Linked DNA regions of Homo sapiens: region 2 is linked to region 1. Evidence: fine-mapped QTL for protein levels in blood plasma. Region 1 holds a variant in brackets. A gene starts in the other region. All regions are shown on their reverse strands.

Region 1 (8,333 bases):
TGAGGATGAGATGGTGGGTGGAGTAGAGAATTGCCTGTTCTTGATTTCAGAAAGGGTGAAGCTGGAAGGAGGAATTAAAGATTGATCTTGATATTCCAGTTGGAATGTTGAGTATAACATCTCTGCTTTAACCAGAAATAAAAGATGACAGGAGGAGAAACTGGCTTTTCAAGGGGATGAAGTTGAAAAGTAATGACAATTATTCACTTTTGGAGAAAATTTGTGACATTTCTTGAGAGTATAATCAGAACAGTTCCTTATAATTTGCATAGCATTTTAACATTTCCAAAGTGCTTTTACATACTACTTCCTTTTTTTTTTTTCCATTTATGCCTGATGTATCAGGATAGGCAGGGCAGGTATTACCCTGTTTTCCATCCTGCAGATGAAGGAGGGGAAGCTCAGCTAGGTGGGGGGTTTGCCTGAGTTTTGTTCTGAGTCAATAGGCTCTTCTGGTATCAAGGGGTGGGTTGGGGGTAAGGTTCTGATCTTGGCTTCTACCCACTTGCTGTATAAGAAAGTACCTCAGCTTTCTGAGGGTTGGAGAATGTGGGGTGGAGAATATCTGCACCATTAGACTCATACGATGGAGAAGGCCAGATAACATAACGTAAGTGTAAGAATGCTGATGAATATAAAACAGGATGCAAATGTCAATCTTATTAAGGTTATGATGTTATCCTGCTGGAGCTGGGAATCTGTTGGTCCCAGGGTGGGGAGGTGGGGAGGCCCAGGGTTCTGCCTGGCTCCACAGGCTTAGCTGCTGGTGCAGTGTACAAGGGTGGGAGTGCAGGGCTCTGAGACAAGGTGGAGATGACTATCCACGGTCAAGGCAGGGAAGTCTGAGGGCTCACGTGGACTCTGGATTTGGATTCAGAGGCCTTAGGGTTGAACATGATTTTCACTGTGTCCTGGACCTTGGGTAAGATATTGGATCTCTCTGAATCTCAGTTTCCTTATCTTCGAAATGTTACATTACACACCCTGGAAATATGGAACTACTTATATGTTTCCCATACTTGCTGTGGCTCTGTGCCTTGATAAAGTCCTGTTCCCTTAAGCAGTTAGATAGAAGATGCAACACAACTGGCTTTGGAGGAAGGGGCCATGGGTCAAGGAATGCAGGTGGCTTCTAGGAGCTGAAAAAGATAAGGAAACTGACCTTGATGCTGGCCCAGTGAGACTGATTTCGGACGTTCTGACCTCCAGAACTGTAAGACAGTAAATCTGTGTTGTTTTAAGCTACTGAGTTTGTAGTAATTTGTTAGAGTAGCAATAGGAACTGATACCATGCGTTTAAGACTTATCCATGTTACTGCATGTATGGGTGCGTTCCACTGTGTGGCTGCATGGCAACTTGCTTATTCATTTACCAACTGATGAGCACTTGGGTGTTCCCAAGTTTTGGCCATTATGCAGAAAGCTGCTATGAATATTCCTATTTATAGGTCTTTGTGTAGACATATGTTTTTATTTCTTTTGAGCAAATCTCTGGGAGAAATGAAAATATAATTGTATATTTAACTTTAAAAGAAATTGCCAAACTGCTTTCCAAAGTGGCTGTACCAGTTAGCATTCCCACACGCAGTGTGTAAGAGTCGTAGTTATTCTATATCCTTGCCAGAGCTTGGCATTGTCAGCCTTTTAAATTTTAGCCATTATAATAGATGTTTAACGGTATCTCATTGTGATTTTAATTGCATTTCCCTGCTAACTAATAATGTTGAACCTTTTTTTTTTGATGTGCTTTTTGGCCATCTGTATCTTTTCTTTTGTGAAATGTCTGTTCAGTTCTTTGACCTTAAAAGAAATGGAGTCATTTGTCTTCTTATTGAGTTTTAGGAGTTCTTTATATATTCTGACTAAACATCCTTTATCAGATATATGTTTTGCAAATATTTTCTCTCAGTCTGTAGCTTGTGTTTTCATTTTCATATTAGTGCCTTTCAAAGAGTAGACATTTAAAATGTTGGTGAAGTCCAATGTATCAATTTTTTTCCTTTACGACTCATGCATTTTATGTCCTATTTAAGAAAATTTTTGCTTAACCCAAGGTTAGAAAAAGTTTCTTCCAAGTTTTCTTTCTGAAGTTTGAAAGTTTTAGTCTTCCATTTAGCTCTACGATCCATGTCGAGTTAATTTTTTTTTTTTTTTGGAGACGGAGTCTCGCTCTGTCGCCTAGGCTGGAGTGCAGTGGCGCGATCTCGGCTCACTGCAACATCTGCCTTCCCGGTTAAGCAGTTCTCCTCAGCCTCCCAAGTAGCTGGGCTTACAGGCACCTGCCATCATGACCAGCTAATTTTTATATTTTTAGTAGAGACGGGGTTTCACCTTGTTGGCCAGGCTGGTCTCAAACTCCTGGTCTCAAGAGATCCGTCTGCTTCAGCCTCCCAAAGTGCTGGGATTACAGGTGTCAGCAACCACACCCCGCTCAAGTTAATTTTTATCTAGGGTATGAGGTAAGAATTAAAATATTGAAAAAGTTCTTTTTGGTAATGTCTTTAACTGGTTTTGGTATCAGGGTAATTCTGGCCTCATCAAATGTGTTAGCATTGTGCCAGGCACTGTAGAGAATATAAAAGTCAGATCTAATCCCTGCTGGACTCTCTCTCTCGCTCTCACACACATCCCCCAAGTATGATGAAGGCAGAGTTTGGTGAGCATAGAAGAGAAGTGCATATGAACTGCTATGGGCTTTCAAAGAAGGGTGAAGGCCTGGGAAGCCTCAGAATCATCTTCATGAAGGAGGGACACTCAGGAAGGGCCTTAGGAGGGCTGCACCATTGCCTCACTCTGGGGGCACCATTCAAATGACAGTCAGTTGAGTGATCCAGGGCCACGTCGCCTGCAACATGGAGGGTACCCGTCTGGAGTTTTTAAAAAAAGTGGCCCTGCTAAACAAGAAAAGGTCTACTAGCTGAGAGACTATCAGCCGGTAGAGATGGGGAAAGGTGGGTGGGGTGGACAAGAAACCATGTACTGGGCGAGAGAGAATTCTATTAAAGTATGCCTTTGCCTCGCCAACCTCTGAATTAAACTCCCATTGTTCTGCATCCTTCCCACACTGATTATGGTGCCGGAGGGCCCTGGAGAGGAAGGTGGGAAGGAGGGGGACCAGCCGTCATGGAGCCCCTCATCTCTGTGCTCGAGCCCCAGCATCCATCATCTCATTTAGTCCTCTCACCAACTCTGTAAGAGCAGCTTCATTATTTGCATTTTTGCAGATTAAAAAATGAGATTCATAAAGGTTAAGTGCCCTGCCTGGGGTCAGCCGCTAGTGAGCAGGGGAGCCTAGTTGCAGTCCAGCCCCCTGGCTGCCTTTGGCCCCTGCAACACTATCTCTCACTGCTCTGACAAAATGTCATTTCTGAGGAAGGCAGGCACACAGACCCAAAAGGAATGGGTGCCGGGGGGGAGGCCAGGATGAGATATTTGTGAGTGGGTTTGTTCTGATGTAGCAAAAACTCTCTCGTTGCTGTGGGCTGGGAAGTGGCTGACTGGCTGCGTGGTCAGAGTTTGCAAA[G/A]CTTTTGCAGATCCTTTTGCTAGAGGGGCTTTAAAAGCTGCAAGCGCTCAGCAGTTCCTATCAGCTGGGATTTTTTTCCTCCAGATTGAATCCTGTCAGGGTTTTACTGGCTCATCTGTTCCCAGAATGACACCATGTCCCCTCACCTGAGCAGCACGGCCTTGCCACCCACGGTACTCCCTGCTACCAGACGGCTCCCGGAAGGAATTCTTCACCAGCCCTATTTTTTGTCCCCTGAACCCCTCTCCTGACTCTCTCAAAACCCTCTGGTTTCTCCCAGAATTTGGAGCCAAGCCCATCAGGGACAAAGGAATGCTGGGACCTTGTTTGGATCTCAGATTTGGTGGTTTGCTCCCCTTCCTGGTGTCATGGTTTGAAGCATTTTCGAAGGAGCCCCCGAAAAGCAAGGACAGTGTGGAGAGGCTGATGCCCAGAGGCGATGCGGTGTGTCTGGGAAACCAGAGGGGACCCTGCCTGCAAGTTCCCATTGCCCCCAACCCCATTCCTATCCCTATGAGCCCCTGGCCCTTCTTCGCCAGTGCCTGTATCCTCAGAGCCCTCTCAGGGAGCCTCACCCGCCAGCCTCTGGGCGTTTGGCTTCCCGTCTTTTGTTTGGTCACCATGGGCCCTGCCACTGCCAACTCAGGCAAACAGAGCTTGGGCCAGCCCTGGGCTGCCCAGCCTCCCGGACGCATTGCACACTGCTCTGTGTCAGCAGAAAAAGTGTACATGACAAGTGGCATACTAGAGCGCCCTCTCCCCCCAGGCCTAGCTACAAAGCCTCCATGCCCTGCTGAGCCCTGCCCACCGGGCCCAGCGTACTCTCCGTACTCTCCGCTCCGCCAGCAGTGTTTCAGGAATCCTGAGGTGCAGCTCAGGTGGCTCTCGGTGACGTCATGGGAAGTGTTCTGGGTCGGTTCCCTTTGCCTCCCTGCCTCCACCTCCTTCCCAGACTTGCCGAGGATGTTGCCTCCAAGCCCCTCCCAGCTCCCAAAATACCAACCCTGCCTCCTGGCCCTGCCAGAAAACGCTTAGCACATTAGCGGGTTTAGCTGCCACAGTGGCAGTCAGTTGGGAGGCTGCAGAGGCACATAGATTTCATTCTGGAATTCTTTCCAGCTCCTCGCTATTTTGACAACACTGGGCAATGCTGTTACCAGGAACCTGCCCTGCCTGTGGGATGGGAGAGGCTGGGGGCCGGGGGTGGGGATGGGAAAAAGGTAAGCGGGGCTGGTGGGAGCAGCCTCAGGGTAAGGGACTATGAGAGAAGGTGGGGGACTACACTGGTATCTCATGGTGCTGCAGCCACTTTGGTCTTTAACTTGGTCTTTAACATGGCTGGCCTCCCTCCTTGCCTCCTGGAGCTCACTTGGGGCAGATCTTAGATACAAGAGACCTCAGTGCAGGGGCTTCTGTTTGAAGGAGGCAAGAGGTTCCAAGACGGCAGGAGAGGCAGCAAGACAGGCTGAAAGAAAACAGCCACACCAATGTTGTCTTGGACTCAAGACTTTACTGCAGCTCCCTCTCTGCCGCTCCAGGGCTGGGTGCCCTGGAGCAAGCCACCAACTCTCCAAAACTCAGTGTTCTCATCTGCAGAATGGGAGTAACCTACAGCTTGCCCTTCCCATCTCAATGTGAGATGGGGGGATCTACAAGAGACAATATATGTGAAAGTGTTTTGCAAAGTGTAAAGTGACTAACATTTGTGTGCCTAGGAGCTCTGGAAGGCAGGGCCTATGTCTTGTTTATATTTGAATTCCTCTATCATGTCTGGTTTATTGGGTAGAAAAATAAATGTGGAGACTTTTTGGAAATTTCTGACTTGCCTCATTGGTGATCGGTGTGGTGAAGGATAGTAAGGTTCTGGGTGTATTAGTTTGTTAGGGTGGCTGTAAGTGCCACAGACTGGGTAACTTCACAGAAATTTATTTTATCATAGTCTGGAGGCTAAAAGTCCAAGATCAAGGTGTTGGCAAGGTTGGTTCCTTCTGAGGGCTGTGAGGAAGAATCTGTTCCAGGCCTCTCTGCTGGCTTCTGGGGCTTGGCTGGCAGTCTTATCTTTGGCATTCCTTGCTTTGTAGGCACATCACCCCAATCTCTTCCTTCATGGGGCAAACTTCCCTTTTTTATAAGGACACTAATTGATATGATTTGAATGTTTGTCCCCTGCAAAGCTCATGCTGAAATGTGATTCCCAATGTTGGAGGTGAGGCCTGGTGGGAGATTATTAGACCATGAGGGTGGATCTCTCACGAATGGCTTAGCACCGTCCACTTGGTGATGAGTGAAGTCTCACCCAGTTAGTTCACACAAGATCTGGTTGTTTGAAAGTCTGGGACTTCCCACCCTTGCTGCCTTGGTCTTGCTCTCACCATGTGACACGCCTGCTCTCCTTTTCACCTTCCGCCATGATTGTAGCTTCCTGAAGCCTCACCAGAAGCAGATGCCGGCACCGTGGTTGCTCTACAGCCTGCAGAACTGTGAAATATACCTCTTTTCTTTACAAATTACCAAGTCTTAGGCATTCCTTTATAGTAATACAAATGGACTAACTCACTAGTCCTGTAAGATTAGGGCTCACTCTATTCCAGTGTGACTTCATCTTGACTAACTATATCTGCAATGATTCTGTTTCCAGCAATGACAGTCTGGGGTCTTCTGAGCCCAGGGCCCAGCTCCAGGATCGGGAAGGTCAAGGCAGTGTGCCAGGCCTGGCTGAGAATAGAGAGTTCTTCTGATGAAACGTGATGTGGGTGCTTGCTGGGTGGGGGACCCTATTTTCTACTGCCATTCTTGGATTTGGAGGCAGATCTTTGTTTCTTAGAGTTATTCTTTTCCCTTTCTGAGTAGTTCCTGTGAAGTAGAGTCATGCCATTTGTGTGTGAGACCCAGCTGCTGCACCAGTTCTAACTCTTCACCCCCTTCTTTTTCATGCCCCTCTTTCCCTTCAAGTCACTAACCCCACACACGCCCACCTTCCTCTGCAGCCCGGAAGCTCGGTACACATTTGCTGACGTATTAGAACACACCCTGGCATGAATGTGATTCACATTCTCCGCCCGTCTCTTCCTTCCTCTGTGTCCTGGACCGCAGGCCCTTGCAGTGCATATCTCTGACAGGGGAACCCCCACTATAGGTGTGCTCCCATTTAGCCTGGGTTCAGGCACATCAATGAGCATGTTCTGAGTTGGAGGGATGGGGCGGGTATGTTGCTGGACCACAGCACTGGGATGTTGTGGGAGGGCACGGAGGTGTCTCAGCACTCCGCTGCCCTCTGTATCTGAGGCTTCATTGCCCTTATTCGCATCTTCCCTATGAAATGCTCCAGTTTAGTAAGGGATTGCTATGGAAGAAGGCATTTGTACAAGTCACCCCTGAATAGTAAGAGGGGATCTTCTCTTATAGATTCTCAACATGTACAGGCACAGTGCTAAGTGCTTTCCATCCTTTTTCTCATGTATTTCTCTAAATAACCCCAAGAAGCAGACGCTTTTATATCCCCATTTCTCAGATGGGCAGTTGAGGGTTTGAAAGGAGATGTAAACTGCCCAGAGTCATTCAGCTAGTGAGGGGACTCAAGCACTTGCTTCTAGAACCTCTAGTTCCACCCTCTCATCCACAGGGCGCTCAAGGGGTGGTCAGTGGCCGTTTGCATTGGTATTCCCTGGAGAGCTAAGTGAAAAGTTGGGTTCTTGGGTCTCCTCCTGATCTATGGAATCATAAGAGATTGGGGTGGGACCCAGGAACCAGCTCCCAGTGACAAGCAGGGCTGAGAATCACTGCCTGTGGAGCCCAGTGCCACCTTCCCTTTCTCTTCCACCAGGCGCCGAGGACCTGCCATCAGCCACATGCAGGGTTCTGAAAGGAAGGGCAGGTGTGACCAGGCCTCCCCATGCACTTCTTTCCTCCCTGGTGTAGTGGCCTCAGGAGTGCTGGTGGATGGGGAGCCATCATGCCTGCACATAAGTTGGGAGAGGGTGGCTTGTGTGGCCGTGCTGACCTGCCGACTTCTCACTCTTTCTGGTAACCCCCATGCCCTTCACCGGTGCCATGTTCCCCAAGGTCCTAGATGATGGAGGGACCAGGCCTGGTGTTGGCAGGCAGTGGCCAGGGCCAGGCAGCCCAAGCCCTGTGTGACGATGATGTGGGAGTGTCTGTCTGTGTTGCTGTAATGGAATACCAGGAACTGGATCATTTATAAAGAAAAGAGATTTATTTAGCTTATGGTTCTGCAGGCTGAGAAGTTCAAGGGCATGGCCCTGTCCTCTGGCGAGGGCTTTCCTTCTGCATCACAACATGGCAGGGAAGGTCAAAGGGAAAGTAGACACGTGTGAAGATGGGGAAACCCAAGGGGGCCCTGGTGTTTTAACAACCAACTCTCCAGGGAACTAATTCATTCCTGTGAGAACAAATCCAGTCTTATGAGAGTATGAATATTAGAGCTACAAGGCACTGCCAAGTTAATCTTGTCTAGAGGGCCAGATGAGCAAACAGAGGCTCAGAGAGGTAAAATCACTTGCCTGGGTTCGCACAGCAGGTAGGTAGTATGGTTGGAGCTAGAACCCAAATTAGTAGGATTGCTCCTAGACTCCTAAGAATGCCAAAATCCAAACCATAGCTTCTGAAAACAGATGTCCTTACATGCCCGGAGACCTTTGGCTGGTTTCCTGGTAGAAGAAGCTGTTCAGACCCCTCTCTCTTTCCGGTTCCCTGCTGCTTTGTGCTACTGGAGGGAAGCAACAAGCTGGTTTTTCTCCTCCCAGAATAGGAGGCATCCCTGAAAATGTTGGCCTGGATTTCCAGGCTGACT
Region 2 (8,333 bases), not on the chromosome of region 1:
AGAAAGGGAAAGGCACAGGGCTTAGAGGCAAATTCCACGGGCTCAATCCAGCCTTTACAGTCAGTGACCCAGCCCTTTACGGTCACTGACTCGGCCAGAGATAGGGTCAGGAGACAAGGGCTCCAATGTGTCCTCTGTTACATCCAGTTGCACAAACCTAAAAAGCAATTCAATACTCTGGGCCTCAGGTCCCTCATCTGTCAAATGGGGACTCAAGAATGTGGAAGTTCGGGGCTAGAGTTTATTATTACCCTGGCCTGGGAGACCAGGGCTTGTGGGTGGTTAGCACATAGTATTTGCGCTGCTTGTGGGAGACATAATTATGTTAATTAAAAGACATGCTACAGATCCCACGTGAATAAGTGGAAGAGCTGAAATTGAAGCCCAGACTTGTCTGATGCAGATGAAATTGAAGCAGCACTTTGCAGACTCTAACCTGTGCACACAACACTGGGATCTTGATCAAATGCAGTTTCTGAGGTAGCAGGCCTGGGGTGCCCACCTGAATAGGGGTAGGCAGGTGAGGAAGAGCAGTTTCTCCATGCATTTGAAAGCCCAGAAGCTCAGAGGACCCAGGAGCTCAATAGCGTTGTTATTAATCAATAGAGTAGAGGGCAAAATTTTACAAATTATCCAATCCTTTAAGCCTGCACTGTCCCACACAGCAGCCATTAGTAACATATGGCTACTGAGCACATGTAATTAGTCCATATTATTACTTATACTGTGCTATAAGCGTAACATACACATCATATTTTGAAAATTCAGAATGGAAAAAATAATGTAAAATATCTGCCTAATAATTCTTATATTGATTATACATTAACATGCTCATCTTTTGGATATATTGGGTTTCATAAAATGTAATATGAAAATTAATTTCACCTATTTCTTTTTACTTTTTATGATGTGGCTACTAGAACATTTTGCATTACCTATGTGGCTCACATTATAGGTCTAGTGGACAGAGCTTCTTGCTTTTTTCCAAACTCACCCAGTTCATTCCCACCTCGGAGTCTTTGCGCCTGCTGTTCCTTTTGTCTGGATGCTCTCATCAACCCTGACCCCCATTTTTCATTTTTCTGTGGAGATGGGATCTCACTATGTTGCCCAGGCTGGGCTCAAACTTTTGGGTTCAAACAGTCCTCCCACCTCGGCCTGGCAAAGGCACCCCCAATTTTCATATAGCCGCTTCCTCACTTGACCCAGGTGTCTGCTCAAAGTCAGCTCCTCAGAGAGACCCTCCTGGACCACCTGAGCTAACACAACCACTGTGACTCTCAGGAGCCCCTTCCCCTAGTTTACAATTGTTTGTAGCACTTCTCACTACTGGAAATCATATATTCATTTATTTATTGTCTGTCCTTCTTCTGGAAAGTAAGCCCTAAAAGGGACAGATTGGGGTGAGCAGGTGAGGGGCTGTATCTGCTCAGGCTTCCCTGGCCCAGGAGGCACTGAGTCAGACAAAGGGGCCATTCCTGAAGGAACCTGTGCCCGGGGCTACCAAAGCAGGGAGGCACAGGAGGGCAGTCAGGTGGCCGTGCCTAGATAGAGGTTTGAGGGCAGACTGGGTGTGACAAGCCTCTGACGTTGGGATAAGATCCTGCCGCCCTTGGGTGGACAGGTGGATGAGAAATCAAAGGCGGCATTATTTGCTGGTGTTAGGTGGATGCGCACCCCAGGCCGGGTGTTAGGCTGAGCCTGGTTTCTTTGGCTCTCACAACTTCCCTGTGCAATAAATCTGACTCCTCCTTTTATAGAGATGGAACTGAGGCTCAGAGGGATCAAATAATTGGCCCGGATCACACAGCAGGTGCAGAGCCAGGACTCACACCCACCTTCCATCTACTAATCCCATCTCTGACTGAGAATGAGGGTCTGCTCCAGTTTCAGGGAGCCCTGTAGACAATAGGGTGTGGCAAAACAGGTAAGGGAGAGAGAAACTGAAGTCTCCAAAGCCAGAGGCTGGTACTGGGAATCCCAGCATGCCAGCTATGGGCTGGGGAGGGACTTTCAGTATCAGCTCCAACTGTGTGGGTAGAGGAGACTGAGTCCCAGAGAGGGGCAGGGGTCGAGAGGGGGTACCCATGAAGAAAGATGCCAAGCCCATTTTACAGAAGGGCAACTAAGTCTGGGGGAGGAGCATTGCATGCCCCCTCCTCTGAGAGGTACCCACCTTGGGGTTGAGGGACTGTGGCTTGCCCGCCTGGGTCTGGTGATCTGAGGCCATGGTGGACTGTCCTGTGCAGGAATGACCTGGAAGACATGGGAAGCAGCAGTGAGGACCTGGAGGGGCCACTGGCTTTTTCACTCTGTGGGGCCTTGAGACCACTCCCCTCTGGCCCCAAACATTCTCTTTTTCTCCTGGTTTCAGACTGTCCCAGAGCTGTGGGGTCCGTAAGCAGCTACTTCAACTTCTGTCCTTAGCTTCATTTATTTCTATCCAGGCCAGCTGCAGGAGGAGGGAAAAACGAGGTCTACTCAAAGAAAGAGAGCAGTAATAAACTAGAGCTTAAATGAGGTCCAAAGTGGGTTCCCAACACTCAACCCCAGACAATGGATACCACACAGAATATAGAATGGTCAATCCCAGAACTTCTGCCTTTATGCAGTAATTTCTTAAATAAAATTGTGTGGAACAAACAAAACCTATGCATTGGCTGTATTTGGTGGTGTGGTGGTGCCCAGTTTAGGAACTCACAAAGTTCCCTGTTCCCCTGCTCCTTCTCCCACCCTCTCCCTGGGACTCCTCTCCCCATCCTGGTACCTAGATTTCTCTTCTCTGCCACTGGTTTTACTCCCCCATTAGTGAAATCATCTGATACAGAACCCACATTACAAGAAAGAGAAGAAATGGGTGCGACGGTAGAAATCCAGGCACTGTGGCAGGCAGCAGGGTAGACCTGCCTTAGCTAGTGAGAACATCAGAAAAGCCTGGAAAATTGTCAGCCTCTTCCCCCTTCCTGCAGAAGGGGTGGTCAAACCAGGCTGTGTTTCCCCAGGGGTAAGAGAGGAAGCCTGGCCTCCCTCTTCAGAGATAACGCCAGCTTCCAGAAGCCCCTTCCACATGAAAGGCCAATACTGGATGTTTCCCAGGAGGAAGAAATGCAGTTAAGCACCTTGGCAGCCAAATCTACTGCTCTCCCGCAAGAAACCAGCCCTCTGGGCTTGTCAGAGTGCCTGAGGTCCTGCCATATCACTTCCCAGTCCTGAGTGTTCACAGACTGAAGAAGCTCAGTTGGTCCAGTTCAGGAGCAGTCTCTGCTGCCTGCCAGAATTGAGACTCTGGGCAGGTCTCATCCTCTCCCTATGCCTCAACTTCCTGTTCTATAAAATGGGGACAGTAATGATGTCTAATAATACCTGTGAACAGGTTGTGAGGATTCAATTATGTAATGTATAAAACCGGAAGCACTTGGCCGTGGTCCCAGAACACACTCAGCATGCAGCAAATGGCAGCAATTGTGGCATTATTAGAGTCATTTCTACCATGCTTTAGTGGCATTGAAATCACCTGTTGCTGGGACCTGTCACATACCTGTGGCTGCATCCTATCCCCTAGCACTCCCAGAGGCTAGGCACAGAGTGGGTGCCCCCTAATTGCAGATGTGGAGGAAAACTGACTCACCCACCTAGAAACAATGCTGAACTGTCACTGGTTTGATTCTTGCAAAACCCTCAGTTACATTCTCCTCCTCAGCGACTGGCGAAACAAGGATGCTGATAGTCTGTTTAATATTAATAATAAAGAACATTGCCCCAATGCCCACTGTGTGCCAGGCACTGTGCTGGATGATCCCCTAACTTCTCTTGAATCCTTACAATAAAGAAGGCTTTTTAACCCCCTTCCCAGTTACCAGAAAAGAAAACTGAGGCTAACAGCATTGAAGTCTCTGCCCAAAGTCACTTGTCAGAATCTGGGTGCTCCCATGCTTGCGGACAGGGGTGAGGATGAGAGAAAGAAGGGAAGACAAGCAAGAGAGGCAATCTTACCAGTGACACCAGCCCCTGCGAGTGCCGTGAAGCTCGGCCAGCGGGAGGTGGCATTTATACCTTCCCCAGAAGTGCCGGTGCCAAGATGAGTGACCGCTGTGCTCCTGCGAAAAGCAGGGTGAGAATGCTGGATTAAGCTCTCACCAAAGCTCGGGTCAGCAAATGCCCACAGACATTGTGTCTCTGCACAATAATGTCATTAGCTTTCAGATTCGGCCGCGCCAGGGCGGTCAGGCGGCTGGGCAAGGAGATGCCCGCTTTGCATGCATCAGCCGTCCGGCTGCCAGGGCCAGGGGTACGCTGGGTTCACTGGTACGGTCAGTCAGGCCGTGAGGCATGGCAGACAGAGGAACATCTCAGTGGGCCTGGGGAAGAACAAGTAAAGAAGGGTGGTTTGGCAGAGTCTGGGCTTCATTCATCTACCCATTTATTCATTCAACAAATATTTGTTGGGCATCCACTTGGTGACAATCTCTGTTCCAGGGGAGTGTCAGGAAGAGGACCTACGCCAGCCCAGGCCATTCAGAAAAGCTCCTGGGAGGTAGCGCATCCCTCAGGGATGGAGAAGAGGAAGCCTGGGAACAGGGTGGGGGGACAGTTCCAAGCAGAAAGGGTCCATATACAAGGAACCAGCATGGTGTATTTCAAGAAGACCTGAAAACAGGTTAACAAAGCTAAAGCATGACATGTGACAAATAGGGCCTGTGCCAGGTGGCCAAGGTGGGCAGGGCCTGATGTTGCAGGGCCAGGGAGGCCAATTATGGAGAGTGCATTTTATTCTCAAGGCCCCTGGCTGTTTCTCTTTCTTTTCTTTCTTTCTTTCTTTCTCTTTCTTTCTTTCTTTCTTTCTTTCTTTCTTTCTTTCTTTCTTTCTTTCTTTCTTTCTTCTCTCTCTCTCTCTCTCTCTCTCTCTCTCTCTCTCTCTCTCTCCCCTCTCTCTCTCTCTCTCTCTCTCTCTCCCCCTCTCTCTCTCTCTTTCTTTCTTTCTCTTTCTTTCTTTTGAGATGGAATCTCACTCTGTCACCCAGGCTGGAGTGCAGTGGTGTGATCTCGGCTCACTGCAACCTCTGCCTCCCAGGTTCAAGCGATTCTCCTGCCTCAGCCTCACCAGTAGCTGGGACTACAGGTGTGCGCCACCAGGTCCAGCTAAATTCTTTTTTTTGCTGTATCTTGTTAGAGACAGGGTTTTGACATGTTGCCCAGGGTGGTCTCAAACTCCTGAGCTCAGGCAATCCATCCACCTTGGCCTCCTAAAGTGCTGGGATTCCAGGCATGAGCCACTGCACCCGGCCTGTTTCTTAACCACTGTCCTAGAGTGAGTTGCTCTTAGATCCCTACCACTGGCCCCATCGCTGCCACATGGGTGCCCAGCCTTTACTCACATTTCTTTTCTATTTTTTTTTTTTTTGAGATGGAGTCTCGCTCTGTCGCCCAGGCTGGAGTGCAGTGGCACGATCTCAGCTCACTGCAAGCTCTGCCTCCCGTGTTCACACCATTCTCCTCCTTCAGCCTCCCTAGTAGCTGGGACTACAGGCGCCCGCCAACACGCCCGGCTAATTTTTTGTATTTTTAGTAGAGACGGTGTTTCACTGTGTTAGCCAGGATGGTCTCGATCTCCTGACCTCATTATCCGCCCGTCTCGGCCTCCCAAAGTGCTGGGATTACAGGCGTGAGCCACCGCGCCCGGCCTTTACTCATGTTTCTTTAGTGCACACACCTTCCTTGCAGCCCAGGCTGTGTCTTGATCCAATCTGAGGCTTGGAGACTGGGTCAAGTATACCTGCTTTCCCCTGTCTCTCATTTTCTTAATGCACATATGCATGCACACGCATGCACACACACTACACACACATGCCCCAGCCCCCTAGCTGGGCTTTTCCTTTTGCAGCACTCATCACTACCCAACATTCTGTTACTCATTTATTTTCTGTCTTTCCAATGAGAAGATAAGCACCACAAAAGCAAAGAAGTTGTCCCCCTGGTTTACCATGGTATCTCCAGAGCCCAGTGCCTGACGCATAGTAGGTACTTGTTTTAAAATCCCAGGGCTGGCCGGGCACAGCGGCTCACGCCTGTAATCCCAGCACTTTGGGAAGCCAAGCCAGGCGGATCACCTGAGGTTGGGAGCTCGAGACCTGCCTGAGCAACATGGAGAAACCCCGTCTCTACTAAAAATACAAAATTAGCCGGGCATGGTGGCACATGCCTGTAATCCCAGCTACTCGGGAGGCTGAGGCAGGAGAATCACTTGAACCCACGAGGCAGAGGATGCAGTGAGCCAAGATCATGGCATTGCACTCCAACCTAGGCAACAAGAGCAAAACTCTGTCTCAAAGAAAATAAATAAATAAATAACATAAAATAAATCCCAGGGCTGCTGTAATAAAGTGTCACAAACTAAGTGGCTTAAAAACAACAGAAATTGGGAATGTAAAATGGTGTTGCCACTACGGAAAACAGTGTGGCTGTCTCAAAAAAAAAAAAAAAATCCAACATAGAATTACCATATGAGCCAGCCATTCCACTTCTGTGCACGTGCCCCAAAGAATTGAAAGCAGGGAATTGAAGAGATATTTACACACCCATGTTCATAGCAGCATTATTCACAATAGCCGAAAGATGGAAACCACCCAAATGTCCATCAACGGATGAATGGATAAACACTATGTGGTCTATCCATACAATGGAATATTATTCAGCCTTAAAAAGAAAGGAAATTCTGACTCCAACATGATGAGGTTTGAAAATGTTATGCAAAGTGAAATAAACCAGACACAAAAGGACAAATATTGTATGATTCCACTTACATAAGTTACCTAGGGTAGGCAAATTCATGGAGACTGGAAGTAGAATAGAGGTTACTGGGGGCTGGGAGGAGCGGGGAATGGGGAGTTATTGTTTAATGGGTACAGAGTTTCTGTTTGGGATGATGGAAAAGCTGGGGATGGATAGTGGTGATGGTCCCATAACAATGCCACTGAACTGTACTCTTAAAAATGGTTAAAATGGTTAATTTTATGCTATGCAGTATTTTACCACAAAAATGTCCCCCAAAAAACCCCAGAAGTTTATTGTTGTGTAATTCTGGAGGCTGGAAGCCTGACATCAAGCTGTCAGCAGGGCCATGCCTGCTCCAGGGGTTCTAGGTGAGGGTCCTTCCTTGTCTCTCCCAGCCCTTTGTGTTTGCCGGTAATTGTTCATGTTCCTTGGATGGGAGGTGCATCACTTTAATCACGTGACTGTCTTCTCCCTGTATCTTCACATCATCTTCCCTTAGTGCATGGCTGATTCTATGTCTAAATTTCTGTGCCTATAAGGATACCAGTCATGTTGGCTTAGGTGACTTCACTAGGCAACTTCACCCTGATGACTTTGTTTCAAATTGGTTCCTTCTGTAAAGACCCTATTTCCAAATAGAAGGTCACATTCTGAGGTACTGGGGGTTAGGACTTTGGAATATCTTTTATGGACACAGGTCAGCCCATAATAGACCTCAGTTAATATTTGTTGAGTAAATGAATGGATTCAAGACCTGGCTGTGTCCTTATAAATAAGAAAGAATTCCTAACATTTCGATTGTATCAGAGCTTGACATGAGTCAGGCACTGTCCATACTCATCTTTTTTTAATCCTCCCAACAAACTCAAGATGTAAGTATTGTATTTATTGATCATTCCATTTTATAAAAGAGAAAATTGAGGCTCAGAGAGACTAAGCCACTTGCCCAAATTTGCACAGCTAGTGAGTAGTAGGACTAGGCTTTATGGATTAAGCCCTGAAACTGTCTGGTTCCATTAATTCAATCCTCACAACTATCTTTGAAGTAGGTATTATTAATGTCCCCTAATACAGATAAGGAAGCTAAGGCTCATAGAGCTTAAGTAACTTGTTCGAGGTCACACAGCCAGGAAGTGGTAGGACCAGTGCTTGAACTTACATCAGTCTGACTTCAAGATAAACGTTCTTAACTTTTAAACTATAAAGCTTCCTACTGAGCTCTGGGAATTTAGTGAAGTTTTTCTTCTCCAGGCCTCAATTTCCCCATAAGAAATGAGGTCCTTGGTGCCAAGACCAGCTCGGTCAGGGAGACCCTAACCAGTGGCGCTAGAGGAATTAAAGACACACACACAGAAATATGGAGATGTGGAATGGGAAATCAGGGGTCTCATAGCCTTCAGAGCTGAGAGCCTCGAACAGAGATTTACCCATGTATTTATTAACAGCAAGCCAGTGATAAGCATTGTTTCTATAGATTATAGATTAACTAAAAGTATTCCTTATGGGAAACAAAGGGATGGGCTGAAATAAAGGGATGGGTCTGGCTAGTTATCTGCAGCAGG

Direction of the effects. Positions count from the first base shown, and alleles are read on the strand shown. Strength reflects both the effect of a copy and how common the allele is.
In carriers of allele G in region 1, the plasma level of the protein whose gene starts at base 4,021 in region 2 tends to be higher than with A alone (weak association).

What was found. PIP is the chance, under the fine-mapping model, that this variant and not a neighbour inherited with it causes the effect. Protein levels are from antibody-based Olink assays in UK Biobank. Linkage for the fine-mapping came from a reference panel and not from the study's own genotypes, which makes the PIPs less certain.
Region 2: CRYBB2 starts here. The variant in region 1 is fine-mapped to the plasma level of the CRYBB2 protein (UK Biobank, PIP above 0.99).

The regions. Positions count from the first base shown.
Region 1 is chr14:72,808,632-72,816,964 of GRCh38, reverse strand. All of the region lies in intron 1 of DPF3 (double PHD fingers 3), which reads left to right. Among named protein-coding and RNA genes, the nearest start is that of DPF3, 81 kb to the left of the region's middle. RefSeq lists an enhancer at 5,952-7,151. The variant G/A (reference allele first, on the strand shown) is at 3,524.
Region 2 is chr22:25,215,327-25,223,659 of GRCh38, reverse strand. CRYBB2 (crystallin beta B2) reads right to left here and starts at 4,021. Exons shown (of 6, transcript NM_000496.3): 1 at 3,994-4,021; 2 at 2,177-2,256. The coding sequence starts at 2,230.